2 separate regions of the Homo sapiens genome follow, and region 2 is linked to region 1. Evidence: fine-mapped expression QTL. A gene starts in region 1. The other region holds a variant in brackets. All regions are shown on one strand. Distances are from middle to middle. Region 1 holds the start of ZSCAN16-AS1 (ZSCAN16 antisense RNA 1). Region 2 has its middle 5.3 kb from the start of OR2B6.

Region 1 (8,000 bases):
CTTGCGCTGTCGCTGGGGCAGTGAACGTGCTGGGGAATAACGGACCTTGGTGTCCCCTCCGCCTTGTGTGCCCATGCAGCTCCGCGCGCTCGCTGTCAATAGTAACGGTCCCCTGGGGGTAGATATCGGACGTGGGGAGGCTGGAGCTGTGAATAGGAGGCTGGGAAAGTGTTGGAGGAGGGAGCACTTCATGGATCCTTAGGATTCCAACTGGATTCGCGTTTGGCTCCGTTACATACCCTGTACTTTACTGTTCTCGATTCATAAACATATCCAGACCTCTCACATAGAGTACAAACTTCATGAGGAATTCCTGCTAATCACAGTTCATAGTTTTGTGAAATCCCTATGGCATGGCACTTAGGAATAGCATATTTTATTAAGTATTCAAAAAAATCGTAATTAAATATATATTCTTTTTGGATCTTTACATATTTCCCACTCTTTCCTATCTTAATGAATTTCTATCGCTTACAGCATCTGCTTTGCTGCTTAGCTGTTTTAATGCTAAACCTATGATGTAAGCTTGAAGAGTAGACCCTAGGTTTAATACCACAAGATATGGGGAACAAATCTATGTTCATTCTTTCTTTGTTAGTCTTTTTTTCTTTTTTTGCCTTTTTTTTTTTTTTTTGAGACAGGGTCTCTATTGCAGAGTGTAGTGGTGTGATCATAGCTCACGGCAGACTCAACCTTCTGGGCTCAAGCAGTCTTCCCACCTTAGCCCCCCAAGTAGCTGGGACTACAGGTGTGCACCACCCTCAGCTTAAAAAAGAAAATTTGTAGAAACGGGGTGGCGGGGCGGGGCGGGGGTCTCACTATGTTGCCCAGGCTGGTCTTGAACTCCTGGGCTCAAGTGATCCTCCTGCCTCAGTCTCCCAAAGTCCTCGGATTACAGGCATGAGACACCACCCTGGCCCTGTGTTCATTCTTTACAGACCTGTTGCATTAGAGCTTTTTAACTTTTGAGACTAATAGGATTTCAGGGGTGGAGGTTGTGGCAAGTGTTATTTTTTGTTGTTTAAGTCTCATGTATTTATTTCCTTCAGCACCTTTCCCAACCACCTATTATTGAGTTCTCAGGGCTCCTCCAATTTTCACCTTAATTTCCCTCTTTATCTGCTCCTGCTGGTAGCCACCACCAACATTTCTATCCCTTCCCAATTACTAACTCCCCAATATTTTGCGTACTGACAAAGTCGTTTTGATTTAAGGGTTTTGTCATCTAATTATCACATGAAAACAAGTAAATAATAGTAAACACTGGGAAGCTACAGTGCTTCTGGACTCCTTCAAAGTAATTATTTTTGCTTTTTATTTCACAGCTGTTGCTTTCCACCTGGGATGGTAACTGGAAGTAACTGGTGACAGACTAGAACTCTACTTTCAGTTTCTTTTTTCACATTTTAAAAGTAACTTTTTTGGCTGAGCGCGGTGGCTCATGCCTGTAATCCCAGCACTTTGTGAAGCCGCGGGAGGATCACCTGAGCTCAGGAGTTTGAGACCAGCCTGGCCAACATGGCAAAAACCCATCTCTGCAAAAAATACAAAAATTAGCCAGGCATGGTAGTGGGCTCCTGTAGTCCCAGCTACTCCAGAGGCTGAGGCGGGAGAATCGCATGAGCCTGGGAGGCAGAAGCTGCAGTGAGCTGAGATCCTGCCATTGCACTCCAGCCTGGGCAATAGAGCAAGACCCTGTCTCAACATAAATAAACAAATAAATTTTTTTTAAGTCTGAAGTTGTGCACATATGTAGTTGTACAAATTCAATGTGCACACAACTATGACTGCACATACTATGTACAAAGTTGTGTACACATAGGAAGTAAAATAGCGTCATGCCATAGGTAGTTTTCTCAAACTGGACACACAGACACTGATTGTAATAGATAAAACTGATAAATTTGACTTCAAAATTTTAAACTTAAATTCTCATCAAAATTTAAATCTTCTCAAAAAAAGCACCATTAAGAAAGTGAAGAAAAAGCTACACACTGAAAAATATTTGTAATACATCTATCTGACAAAGAACTATCCAGAATATATAAAGAACTCTCACAATTTAATGAATAAGATAATTCAACACCAATAGGCAAAAGATTTAAACACTTTCTTTACAAAAGATAAAAGAATGGCCAGTATGCACACTAAAAAGTAACCATTATTCATCAGGGAAATGCAAAGTTAAAACCTCAATGAGTTACCACCACATATCCGTTAGAATGGTTGATAATATCGCCAATTTCTAAGTTATTCAGGCTTGAGAGGCTTCCTTAGTTTACTCAATGAAACATGGAGATAAAGGAGAAATTATCAGAGCCAGATTTCTCCTTTGAAGTGTTACTTTTCTCCATTAATATAACCACCATCCTCAGTTCTAATTACTTCACACCTATGTGACTGCAACAGCCTTGAGATAGCCTTCCTAACTATACAAGACGTGGTCCTTAAATATCATTATCATTCTTCCAATCACTGACCCTGAGTGGTTCCTTATCTCTAAGTAAAATTTAAACTTCTATGCTTGCCTTTTATTTTTTGTATTTTTAAAAATAAATGAAACATGATAAAGATTAATATTATATAAAATTCTTAAAAGCTGACATCTCCACCCTCAAATAGTATTTACCTAGAATGTTGGGAGATAATTCTTTAATGGCTTCTCAAATTACTCCTAGTCTTATGGTAGATTTTTCTTTGAGGTTAGGTTTTCAAGGATGTTTGTATCTCCTTCTAGATCACAGTTGTTTCCTGACCAGGATAATAAAGATAATGGCTCATTCTGGGGCAAGGCTGAGCAAAGGTTGGGCTTCCTAAGCTTGGCATTCCTCTGCTAGGTTGCAAACCCACTGTTCCATCCTAGCAGGGGAATGCCAAGCTTAGGCCCCTCTGTGGGCTTTGGGAACATAAGCTTTGGGAACAAGGGAATATAAAGCTTATGATGCCTGTGTTATTAAGTAATAAAGTCTTCTGTCTCTGACGCAGGAGTCCAGTGTCTTCTGTTAGTATCCATAAAACTGTGGCAAGTTAAATTGTTAGCTTGCAAGTAGGGTAAAAGTTTCACAATTTTCAATATGGGGTAATCACTGTTAAGTTTGGAGTGCATCCTTTTCTTGTACAAATACCCCACAAATTATATCTATATAAACAAATTTTTTCAACAAAAATGGAATATATATTGTTCTGACACTCCTTTTGTCATTTGAACGGTTGAAAGGTATTCCTCAATAGCATATGTCATATGTAATTCTTCCGCCATTGATTTACATTGATAAACAAGTGTTTTCCTTTTTTTCTACCACTAGCGTCCTGTCTGCCTTTTATTGCCTTCCAGAATGACCTTCTCCCTATCCCATACCCCTGGTCATAATTCCCCTGTACCCCCAAGTCAAAGGACTTATCTCATTGCTCACTACTCAATCTAAACACTCGTCTATTATTCTAATAACCCCCTCTCAAGACTTTATTATTCGATTTTGCACTGATCACATTCTGTCTTATATTACTTGCTATGTTGCATTTGCTGTCAATAGATTAAAGCTTCCATAGTTGAGGTGTCGGTTCTGAGATCTCCTTCCCAGTTGCAGTAAGTGGCAGCCCTTGAAATATGCAGATGTGCCATACATTTCTGACAGGAAGAGTGGTTTGCCTTTTTTTGTCAAGTAGCTAATCAATCTGATTCATCCTCTCCCTGCAATTCTAGTCTTATTCAATAATTCCTTCTGCTTAGGTAGGTCCTCATTCACCCATGTACTTATCAAGCACCCACCATGTGACAGATGCCAAGTGAGGTGAAAGTGCTGGGATGAGCACCTCTGTGGATCTCACAATGACCATCCATCTTTTGCATCCTTCTTGGTTTTTCCTTTACCCAAGTCCTGCACTTCACTCTTTACCCGTGCTTCAGAAAAGCGGAAGTTGGTTAATTAATTCCATTTGTCTAACACGGATGAGAGTGACAGCAGACAAGGGGAAAGGCAGGGAAATTCCCTTAGACTGTTCTTACATGCACTCTCACACTTAATAGTCAAAGCCACCCTATGAAATAGACACTACGTTATTAGCCTGAGTTACATAAACGAGTAAACAGAGGCTTGGAGAAGTTAAAAATAAATTGCCCTCAGTCCTAACTGGAGAGTGGTGGAGTCAGAATTTGAATCCAGGTTTAAAGAATTCTAGTGCCGGCACTCTGCACCTATTTCTCTTTGGACACTCATTTCCCCTAAGGATCAGAGAAGCTCAAAGTAGGCCACTTTTCGTCTCCGTAAGTCCGCAAGGTCCTGCGAGATCACAGTGAGCAGGGCACCAGCAAATACAGTCTGCGACCGCGAGACGTAAAGGGAAGAACGCTCCTCGGCACCCCTCCCCAGTCTATCCTAAAGTCAAGAACGTCCGAGCCCGCCTTTCTCCGGGGGCGGGCTGCAATAAAACAGCAAAATCCTCCATTCCCCATCAGCGGTCGATTGGGGGCTCTTTCGAAGCGGCAGCTCTGTAGGACCGCTCTTCTACCCCAAGATCCCTCGGCTTCGGCCCCCTAGGTGCCAGGGTCTGCGGGACCCCACGCTCAAAGCCGCCGGCCGGGGTCGACAACTGCAGAGAGGGTCGGGATAGGAAATTGCGGGTAGCGGCAGATGCGGGTCCCCAGGCATCCCGGAGGTTCCCACAGGTCTGCAGTGGGCCTACTTTGCGAAAAGGGCCCGGCTGCGCCGAGCCTCGTTCAAATCAGATGCCAGACAGTGTTTCTTGGGATCCATCCAAATAGGTCCCTTATTTCTCTTTGTGGGAGCCCTGGGCCTCCTTCCAGGCCGGAACCCAAGTGCTTAGGCAGCCGGGAAAGGCCGGTCCCCTTTTTCAGTTCTCTCGCGACCTCTAGCCACTTCCGGTTGCTAACGGTTCCCAAACAGCCCCCGAAAACGCTACGTGAGCTGGGCCCTGGGCCAGAGGCAGAAAACGGACGGAAGAAAAGGTCTGGCCGGTGAGTGTCAGAGTGAGGGCGAGATTGGGTGGTGTTCTCTGCCGGTGGATAGGCTCGACCGTCCGGTTTGGGATTGGGGTTAGGTATTAGGGAGCGGTTCAAAATTATGCTAATTGTTAAGATTACGAGTATTATTTAAAAAGATACACAACAGCAACAATACAATGAGCCCACGAAGATCAAATGCCAGTTAACTGATTTAAGCAGCTTTGATAGGAAGAAAATGCTGAATTTAATGCTAACAAAAAGATCTAAGTGCGCTGTTAGGGGCTAAGACTTTAACATTATGGGCCAGCCACTGTTCTAAACCCTTCACATTTGGTCACTCATTTAATTCCTACTTTATGAGGTAGATATCATTATAATACTGTTTTACAGATGGGGAACCTGAGGCACAGAGAGAAAAATGTATTAGCCAAGGTCATATAACTAGTAACTGGCAGAACAAAGATTCATACCCAGGCATTCTTCCTTTAAATTCTGTACTCTGGCCTTTCATTGATAACCTGGTTTTATCAGCTTAGGAAATTTGCTATCCAGATGGAAGTATAAGTTTCTACAGAGATATGTTATTGCAGCAGTGTTCTGAATCTCATCGGGTTTGTTGGCAATTTGCCTTTCAACAAAGGGTTTTTTTTTTTTTTTTTGATAAGGGTGGCTTCCACAGAGATTTAAGGAGAACAATAAAAATTTTCATTTTAATAAATAAGCCCCATTTCAACGTCCCTTCTCCTGTATCATTCCTCTGATTCTTCTCTGTCGTTATTTGTTTCTATTAGGTTAAATCATTTTACATTTCTGGTATTTAACCATTTTGACCCACAAAAACAGGGATTTCATTTGTTTAACCTAATACAGAAACATCTTTTCAAGCAGAATTTAGGAATCTACAACAATGAGCAAGATTATATTTTCATCTCCAAAATGTACGTTAAGTCTGTTTGTTTCTCTTTATATCCACTGTGAACCCATGGTCCATGCCACTACCTTCTTTCACTTGGGTTACTACAGTAGCCTCTGGACTGATTTCCTTACTTCTGCTCTTTTCTCATTCTTGCCTCTTTAAGGAGCCAGAATGATCTTTTCTAAACAAACATTGGATTATGTTCCTCCCTTCTAGTAGTTCCCCATCACGTTTAGAATACACATCCTGGCCCCTGTTCACCTCTCTAACCTAATCTTGTGTCACCTTCCCCTTAATCCAGTGCTTTCAACACGTGGCCTTTTTCAGTTCCTGTAACACACCAAATTCATCCCTATTCAGAGACTTTGCATTACCTCTCCCTTTCGTGTGGAATGGTTTTCTGCAGAACTGAAGGTCAGTTCTATCTAATAAATAGGAATATAATGGGATTCACCTATGTAATTTAAAACATTCTTATTAATAGCCATATTAAAAATGTAAAAAGACAGGTGAAATTATCTTTAGTTTAAACCATCATATCCAAAATATTACTATATCAACATCTAATCAATATAAAAATTATTAATGAAATATCCTATATTCCATTTTTTGAAAGCCAGTGTATTTATACTTATTGGACATCTCAATTCACATATTTTCATAAATAATCTATATTGAGATTACATAAAATTTAAAATAAAAAAATAGATTCACATATCCAAATTATTTCAAACATACTTAAAAGTTATCTAGTGAATTATGAGTTTTAAAGTTTAATTAAAATTAAAAATTTAGTTCCTCAGTTGCAGAGCCAAATGTACCTCGTGGCTACTACACTGGACAGCACAGATTTAGATCAAGGATAAAATGTCTATATTCATGATTGGGTCAAGGGGCAAAGAAGAAAATTGCACCAGAAGTGTGGCAAGGAGGGAAGGGGAAGGTCTGCAAAAATGCAGTGTAAGCTGTTTATGCAAGTCACATTTAAGTCACATTACTAGTCCTCACTAGTAAATGAGGTAAGGCTTTCTAAAGTAGACTACTTTTTAGCATCAAGGCTGCATAGATTTTAGGTATGTTGGGAATAATTTTCTGGGGTAGGAAAAGGGTCCAGTAGTGCTGGTCACATGTAGCATTTCTTTCTTTCTTTTTTTTTTTTTTTTTTTTGAGATGGAGTTTCTGCTCTTGTTGCCCAGGCTGGAGTATAATGGCACGATGATCTCGGCTCACCGCAACCTCCGCCTCCTGGGTTCAAGCAATTTTCCTGCCTCAGCTTCCTGAGTAGCTGGGATTACAGGCATGCACCACCAGGCCTGGCTAATTTTGTATTGTTAGTAGAGACCCTGACCATGATGGTCGGGATGGTCTGGAACTCCCGACCTCAGATGATCCACCCACCTCGGCCTCCCAAAGTGCTGGGATTACAGGCTTGAGCCACTGTGCCCGGCCACATGTAGCATTTCTAAGTAGAATTTTATTGTGTATGATGTGGAAGAGTCGTAGAAATCTGATTATTTTCCTATAGAGCAGGGGTTCTCAACTGGGGGTGATTTTGCCTCTCAGGGGACATTTGCCTCACTCAGCCTGCCCACCAAATTGCCTGGAGACATTTTTGGATATCACAAGTGGGAAGTGCTAGTGACATCTAGTGGGTAGACGCCAGGGATACTGCTAAACATCCTACAGTGCAGAGGACAGCCCCTACATCAAAGAATTGTCTGGCCCAGAATGTCAATAGAAATAGTTTCTCAAGGTTGAGAAACCTTGCTCTAGAGGATCTGAATAAGAAAGACTGACATACCCACTCTTTTAAAACCTCAGCCTAACTCCCTTGTGATATTACCATGGGAAAAACAGGTTGTTTTGAAGCATTTCAGTTTCCATTTGTTTCCACTGTTGATGGATTTTGTGATCAGACTAAAATAGAATAATTTCATGCTCAAGATGAGAATGTAGACCATTTAATAAAGATAATATAGTGTGTGCTGTACACGTAAGACTCAAAGCACCTTGGGATCAGGAGCTGGTCTTTTTACCTTTATATGGCTTGTATCATATGATCCACTGTCTCCAACAATTGATGCCAATATATTAGAATCACTTGTCTATCTTTCCTATCTC
Region 2 (8,542 bases), 190 kb after region 1:
TAAATGTCCTGGGGTTGCCAATAAAAAATGACTCTGTGAGGTAATATTTATCTTGTTCTCTCCACAACTCCAATACCATCAACTTTAACAACAGAGATAATAATAACTATCTGATGTGAAGTATAAATGTGATCTTTAATGTAAATTACCTGGTATAATGGCACACAGCAATGTGAATGAAAGTATCATATGACACAGGAACTCTGAGACATTCGGGGCAGAGGCTGTTCAGAGCCCTAAATTTGCTAAGTACTAATATAAGTCAATGCTACCAGTTAAAAATTTCCAAATCATCTATCTTGCTACCACCACCCTCTATTGTTTTATTATAATTTTGTTAGTGTAAAAATGTCAATTTAAGGATAGGATCATAAATTTTAAACTATTATTCAATATGTATTTCAATTTTGCTCACTTATTCTACAGTTCTCAGTATAAAATGGCAGGGAAAGCTTTTATAGCCTCTCAAATGAGTCCCTGCATATTATTGACAGCTGCATATTATTGACATGCTATGCAGCTGTCAATAAAATTAGGAATGTGGTATAGATATAAATTCAGATATAGATATACATGTACAAAAACATTCAAATCCTTAAGGAAAAAAACAAGTTTCTGAACATGTATTTAGCATGCTTCCATGTGTTTACATAAGGGAATATAATCATATTGGTCAGTATTCATATATGTATAAAATTACCTGGAAGTATACAGAAGTGTTAAAAGCTGTTACTTCTGGGGAATGGAAATGGAAAGAGGGAGAAAAATCAGATTTTGATATTTAACTTTATCCTTGCTTTTTCTAATTTTTAACAAATATAATGCTTTTTATTATTAATAAAGATTATTATGTATTATATAATAACTTTAAGTGAGGACATATTCATACTGTATGTTTTACTATAAAGACAAGCATTGCTTTAGACTTTATAACTGAAACAATCTTATATGAATTTAGACTTTTATCTCAACAAATTTTTAAAACAGGATCTACATTAATCTACATGGACATTTTCTAAAGACTGGAATGCAAGGGCATTGGGCATTCGGCATCTTATTGACAAAAAAAAATCAAAAAGAGTTGCCACTCATTATAGGAATTCTGAAAAGCAGAACAAATGGAATCCATAAAAAGAGATTTCACAAGTTCACAATTTCCTTGAATTAACAAGTGTTGGAAAATACCCTCAGTCTATATAATTAGGGTCACTGCATATCTCAGTTTGCACAGGACTGCGAGTTTACTCCTGCTGTTCTGACACAATTACTAATAGAACCCTTCAGTCTTCAAAAGAGTTCATGTTTGGGTGATAAGTTATAAGGTCTCTCTAGCTGTAATATTGGAGACTAAAATAATTTTCAAATTATTGTTCAAGAGATACCTCATCACTGAGGACACTGCATATGCTTTCTCCTTACTTGGGCCAGTGGCTTTCCCTGACCAGCCCTGTATCTGGCATTTCTCTGCTAGAATACAGCCAAAAACAAACTCTCCAAGAAGCCCTGACTAATGAAAATTCTAGAAGGGAGGAATTCAATTAACTTCTACTCTTTCTCACTGAGGTTCAGCAATTACAAAAGTATTAAATGCACTTCTGTTATAGGTAATGTCCATGATCCACAGCAGTGAGGGAAATTTTGCCCCAAATTTCTCCTGCATGAGAACAAAAGTACTGGGGAGACTGTAGTACAACTCATTCTTATATTCTGCTTTGCTAACTTTTGGGGCAAAATTTCCCCATCTTTCAAATATCCAGTAACCTCTTTACATATCCACTCTAAAAGAGAGAACTTTTGTTAAAAAGTTGAAAAATTGTCTGGGTGTGGTGGCTCACGCCTGTAATCCCAGCATTTTGGAAGGCTGAAGTGGGTGGATCACCTGAGGTCAGGAGTTCAAGACCAGCCTGGCCAACATGGTGAAACCCCTTCACTACTAAAAATACAAAAATTAGCTGGGCATGGTAGCACACACCTATAATCCCAGCTACTCAGGAGGCTGAGGCATGAGAATCACTTGAACCTGAGAGATGGAGGTTGCAGTGAGCTGAGATAGTGCCACTGCACTCCAGCCTGGGCAACAGAGTGAGACTCCATCTCAAAAAAAAAAAAAAAAGTTGAAATATTATCTTGCACACAGAAGTTTCAAGTAATTTGAATTGTTATTCTTATCACTATCATTGGATTGGAAGGACTTGTTAACAATGGAAACAAGTAGGAATCTTGTATCTCTGAAATCCTCGCAGATAGCATAACCAATTATTTACCTGATTACACCTGTGCTGATGGTGGTGCCCAGTCATGGCTGAGATCGCAAAAGGCTACACAATCTATTTCTCTGGTCCTGAATAGAATTCTGTTTACAGCATCTTCAGAGGATATCATTCTCATTTTGAGTTAACGAGCTTTCCTTTGGTCAACATAGGAACATATTTTCATAATGTGAGACAAAAGGGATCAGATTGCATAGCAACTATCTTACAACTGCAGGTAAGAAAAAGTGAGTATTGGGCCAGGCACAGTGGCTCCTGCCTGTAATCCCAGCGGGAAGCTGGGGCTGATTGCTTGAGTCTGGGAATTCCCAGCATTTTTGGGAAGCTGAGGCAGATCGCTTGAGTCCAGTCCAGCCTGGGCAACATGGCAAAACCCTGTCTCTACCAAAAATACAAAATTAGCTGAGTGTGGTGGCATGCGCCTGTAGTTTCAGCTACTCAGGAGGCTGATGTGGGAGGATTGTTTGAGCCCAGGAGGTTGAGGCTGCAGTGAGACATGATCGCACCACTGCACTCCAGCCTGGGCAACAGAGACCCTGTCTCAAAACAAAACATAACAAACAAAGCAAAAACAAAATTGAGTACTGTAAAAAGCAACAGTTGAAAAGGGTTATTTGGACCTTTAGAACTTTTATCTATACATAACTCAGGATATTTCAATTTTATTGTCTGAATAAATACAATCACCACCCGTTTGCTTGTATATTAGTTGGGATTGCATCCATCAGCTACATACTGAAGTTATTCAGTATATGGCTGACAGAGGATTCTGAATGACGAGGTTCAACAAAGTCCTGAAAACTTTATTTTAAGCTGTTTACTATGCAGTGAGCATTGAGATAAGAAATATGACAACAGCTGTAGTTTAGATGCTGCTACTAAGTCACTTCACTACTGGGCAAGTTACTCAATGGCTTTGGGAAGCAGTTTAATCTATGGTAACACCAGAGTTTTCTGTTTTCCATTCGACATAAAAATTGTTTGCTTCTAAGTTTTCTATAATTATCATACCTCTGAGAATGTATAAAAAGCTTTAAATATACTACAGTGAACCCCCATGTTCCTGCTGGAGTATAAGGATAAATACTAGGAGTAATTTTTCACACAACAGTGCAATTTGGCTTAGAATAGATGAAAAGTTTGCCAATATTTTTTGTCTGTTTCACAAAAGGTTAATTATTCAGGTAGAAATCTGAATTTAGAGGTTCAGAGAGATTATTTTCATAGGCTAGATTATTTTCATAGGCAGACAGAAGGTTCAAATCTAAGACTGCTCTGCTCTCAAGTTTTAATTTCCAGTAGAGATAACAAAACATTGCAAATAGCAGTATAAAACAAATAAATGGAATTAAGAAACTGGAGCCTTAGTCAAATTTTTCTGAGTGAGATAATCATAAACGTCCATAAGTGCTCAAAACACCCAAATTTTAGCAGGTTTTATATAATAAATTTCTTAAATGTGTTCTACATACCTCTATTTTAAGCATTAGTGATAGGATGATTTGTGTGTCCAAGAAGCTTTAAATTCAAATAGGATGAACTGGAGGCATGTGGATTCAATAACCTCTTCGTAAGCTATTAATTGTAAAAACTGATATGGTGAAGTTTGTTCATTTTTCCCTTGTTTCACGCTGTAAGTGGCAAATTATAAGATATCCATTCAGGATTAATTTAGAAAATATGAGAATAGGTACAAAGCATTACAGATGATCAGACATGTTTTTCTGATATTATATTACCAAGTATGAAGGTATTTATTGATCTTTCCAGAATTCTCCTCACCAGGTTTACAAAATAAATGAGAGGGATAGGAAACTATTTTTGAATGTCGGGTGTTCTCTGGCTTACAGGGGAAGATAACAACCCTCATGTGGTTTATGGTAATTGACCATGGTATCTGATGGGAAGAGAGAAGGAGGAGATCTCTGTGATGTGATACTTCATTTTAGTTTAGATTTGCTCCCTGATACCCTTTCTCTGGGGATTGTCTCCTCAATTGTTTCTGAGACAAAAGGGAACGACAGCAGGGACTAAAATACTTTATCAAATAAAGTCTGGATTTTGTGCCATTAAACTGAGTGTTCGTTTCCTTTTTACTAATCAAGTTCTGTCAAGCCACAGAAAACTGTCCATTTACTCTGAAATCCTGAGGTCAGTATCTATGCAATAAAATAGGCTTCCAGTTAATTTGATGTAGAAATATTTTTACCTTGATTTACATAAAGTAGTTTTCTTCATTATATATCCAAATAGGCTTCTTTTCTTTCATAGATTTTGAATTTCTAGCCTTAGTTGAAAAGCTCTT[C/T]GGGTCAATGTAATTTCCTAGATTTTTTTCCAAGATTAAAAAGAGATTTATATTTTTCTATAGTTTTTCTATACAGGATTTGTTTTTATACATTCTAATATATAGTTTCCTCAGCTTTCAAGGATGAGTAGATATGAGAAAATATATTTGTGGTTATGTAAAAGGTTGGTATCTACAATATAAATAGAGTTTTTATAAAGCCCAAGAAAAACACAAATAACACAATTGAAAAAATGCTAAATAATATGACCATATACATACTGTGAACTCAGAATAGCAAATCTATATAAGATTTTAAATTCCCAAATATTCAGACAAATATATTAAAGTAGTAATGATGAGTCACTTATCAGATTGAAAAAACAATGTAACTAGCAGTAACTCCTGAATGTTGCTGAAGGAAAAAACCTCTCATAAATTATGGTTAGAAATTCAAAGTGTCACTGACATTTTAGAAATAAATAGGGCAGTTAATCTTGAAAAAAATACTCTGTTCATCAACATAGCAATGGCATTCATGGAAATCTATCCTATGGAATAAAATATACTGGTACACAAATCGTAGAAACAATAATTTTTATTGTAGCAATGTTTGTGGTGGCCAAAGTAGAGAAAAAATTAGTTTCTCAATAGGAAATTGACTAGTAATTAACCTAATCCAGAAGTATTTGCCTGTGATGTTGCTGAGTGAGAAAATGAAGATGTAAAAAAGAATAAATAACATGATCTTAATTATATAAACAATGACTAAAACACTCTCAATATAACTGTATGTATTGTGCGCCTGCATGGAATTATACGAGAGTGAAGAAGAATAAAGAACACTTGTTAGCTCCTTCATGTGGGCAATCTGGAGCACAGAGGCTGATAGCTGTGAAGGGAGAAGGAAGGGGCATCAAGTAAACCAGGGAAAAAGACTAAGATGTAATCCACAAAAAATAATGTATAGCATTTAAAACCTTCCCAAACTAATAACAGTGCTTATCTCTGAAAGTAAGAGTGAGCGTGAGGGCGGGATTAGTCAGAGGAAAATGTTTATAATGTTGGATTTTCTTTTTTCTCATAAATGCTTACAATAGATAATTTAAATAAAGGCAATAGTATTTAAAGAAAAAAAAACAGAGGGCTAAACAAATAAGAAAATAAAGACAAATCTTTAGTTTGCAGAGTGAACCAAGGTAAATAAACTAAAAAAATTCAGTAGTCCTTAAAGTGAAAAATTAAGAAATAATGCTCAGTTATCAAAGGGACTGGAAACAGGGAAGAATCTGTAGTTTAATAATAATAGTATCAATGTTTACTATGCTTACAATGTCCTATAAAATTGCTACACTTTATCTTTATTTTTTTAATGTGGAAATGGAGGCTTAGAGAGGTTAAACAAACTTTCCAAAATTAACATAATTTGTTAGAAAGCCTAGATATACTATGAATCTACATTTTGGTTTAAGTTTAATTTCTCCTCTTTGACTAATGCTTAAGGATGATTCTTGCCAAACTCAACACTCCCCACTTACTCTAATTTCCCAGAGGACCACTTACTTGATTAGTAGTGAAAGATCTCTTGAAACAATATAACTATAATTTTGTGTATTAATTTCTGACCATCTAATCAATTACCTCTCCTTATATCAGAATGAAATAGGCTTGGCTACAGTAATATTTTAGTGACTAGCCTTGGGGGTTGGATCAGTCAGGCTTAGCTCTCAGGAAGAACTTTGTATATAAGAGGGAACTGAGCATTGAGAAAGACAGTTTTAATAGTACTTTAGGAAACACCAAGTATTAAATATTTGAGAGACTAAGTAAAAATTTAACATGTTCTGAAGCAAGGCTGATTTGCAGTATAAATTAAAGTAGGATACCCAAACCTCATTCTTAGTTTACATTTTCCCTTTTATGATGGGAAGGTCAGCAACATCATTATGTTTAGTATGTAGAAGCTCAGATAAAACTTGGAGCATTCTTGGATTAGATGGGTTTCCATGAACTGATATTATGACTCAACAAATTTTAATTACTGCCCCCAAAATTAGAGTGGGCATGATTCTGGAAGAATTCAGGCCTTTTCATAAATGTAATCTTGGTATCTTATACCTGTATATTGGGTATATGTAGAGTTCAGGCAGGGTCTAGCTAGGCCCCCAAAAGCAAGGATTCAAGAATGGAAGCTAGACACAAATGCATAGGAAAATTTGGAAAAGTGTGACATTGAGAACCTTACAGAACTTAGTGGTCTTAGAAATAGTATTCTAGTTTGTGAAAGCATAGGAATGTGTGAATGTTTTAGTGGGGGAGCTGAATAAATCCTTAGCAATATTTATCTCATTCTGATGCCCATATTTGGTTGAAATATACTTTATGTTATTCTTTGCACTGAATGTTTTGCAAAAATTATTGAGTGGAAATAAGTTCTTTCATGTATATATATGATGAATGCACTGTGGAAAGGAAAAGTAATGAGGTAGAACATAATGTTTTATATAAAATTCTGTCTTGCAAATTTGCTGAAAATTAGAATCAAATTCTATGTCAATAAGGCAGGTGAGCCAGTTGTATTTTCTGTAAAAGAAATTCTATAACAGCAGAAAAGGCTGAAGATGTTGGCTCACATTAAGAGGAAATGAGGGTGGTGTGGGGAGATGCTGAAATTCTACAATTATAAAAACCTTCCATACTGAAATTCATAAGAATAATGATTTTAAAACAGTGAATAGTAAGATCACGTGATAAGAGAAATATCTGGAGTAACCGAAGACAACAATAAGGTTTCCTTCAAAACAGGACAGTCAAATTAGTGATTCACTTAATTTGATGCTGCAATTATCAAAAAGAAGTTATTTGAGTACAAAGATAAAAGTGTTCTTTTGAGGCTTCCTTTTAAAAATACCTCCTGTAGTAAAATCTGTCATTTTTATTGTCACAAAATCTTGATCAAATTGTCTCCCCATTTCATTTTACTATTTATCTGTTGCTGATATGTATAGATACAATTGATTTTTGTGCATTGATCTGTTTTCCAGTGACCTTCATGAACGCATTTAATTAGTCTAATAGTTTCTTTGTAGACTCTTTTGCATTTGAACACACACAATCATGTCATTGGGAAAAAAATGATAATTATACTTCTTTCCATTTCTAGTGTATTTTATTTATTTTTCTTGTCTTATTACACAAGCTAGGACCATCAGTATAATGCCAAAAAGAAGTGATGATTGTGGGCCTCTGTGTCTCATTCAATACCTTATAGTTGTGTATGATGTCTGCTGCAGGTTTCTTGTAAGTATTCTTCATCAGCTTAAGTGAGTTTTCACTGTATTCCTAGTTTGCTAAGATTTAAATAGGGGTTTGATTTTATCAAATGCTTTGTCCAAATCTGTAGAGATTTGCCAAATTTTTTTAAAAAATTGATAAATAGTACGAAATGATTTTCAGATGTTACACCACTCTATCCTGCGATAAACAACACGAGTGCAATATGCTATACTTCTTGTATAACACTAGATAAAATTGGTTAACAAAATTGTTTAGGATTTTTATATCTAGGCTCACAAGAGATTGGTCCCTAGTTTTCCTTTCTTGCAATGTCCTTATCAGATTTGGTATTTAAATTATGGTGGCCCTACAAAAGGAGTCATAAATTGTATCTGCTATCTATTTTCAATATAATACTATGGAAGAAATAACCACAAAATCCCTGGGACATCCAAAAATACTTATTTTTGCTTAGAAGTCCCTGGTTTAGCTGAGTGGTTCAGCTCCTCAGGTCTCATTCATGTGTCTGTGGACAATACAGTTTGGCACAATAATTTTACTAGCCTTGGCTGAAGCATCAGTTGAGAAAGAAAACTGGGCTAAAATAGCTCTACTCAGTGTATGTCATTTTTCACTTTGCTATCCTGAGCATGTTCTCAAGATAAAATTGGAGAAGCATGAAAGAGAGTTGGAAGCAGGCAAAGCCTCTGGC

What was found. PIP is the estimated chance that this variant, and not a neighbour inherited with it, causes the effect. A credible set is the group of variants that fine-mapping cannot tell apart.
Region 2: its variant is the best candidate, but not a certain one, in a credible set for the expression of ZSCAN16-AS1 in whole blood (TOPMed, PIP 0.75).

Annotation. Positions count from the first base shown.
Region 1 is chr6:28,133,720-28,141,719 of GRCh38, reverse strand. It overlaps ZSCAN16-AS1 (ZSCAN16 antisense RNA 1), which reads left to right and starts at 4,404. Exons shown (of 2, transcript NR_103456.1): 1 at 4,404-4,975. It also overlaps a transcript of ZKSCAN8 not described here. RefSeq lists an enhancer at 4,044-4,233.
Region 2 is chr6:27,947,657-27,956,198 of GRCh38, reverse strand. No RefSeq gene overlaps it. Among named protein-coding and RNA genes, the nearest start is that of OR2B6, 5.3 kb to the left of the region's middle. The variant C/T (reference allele first, on the strand shown) is at 4,576.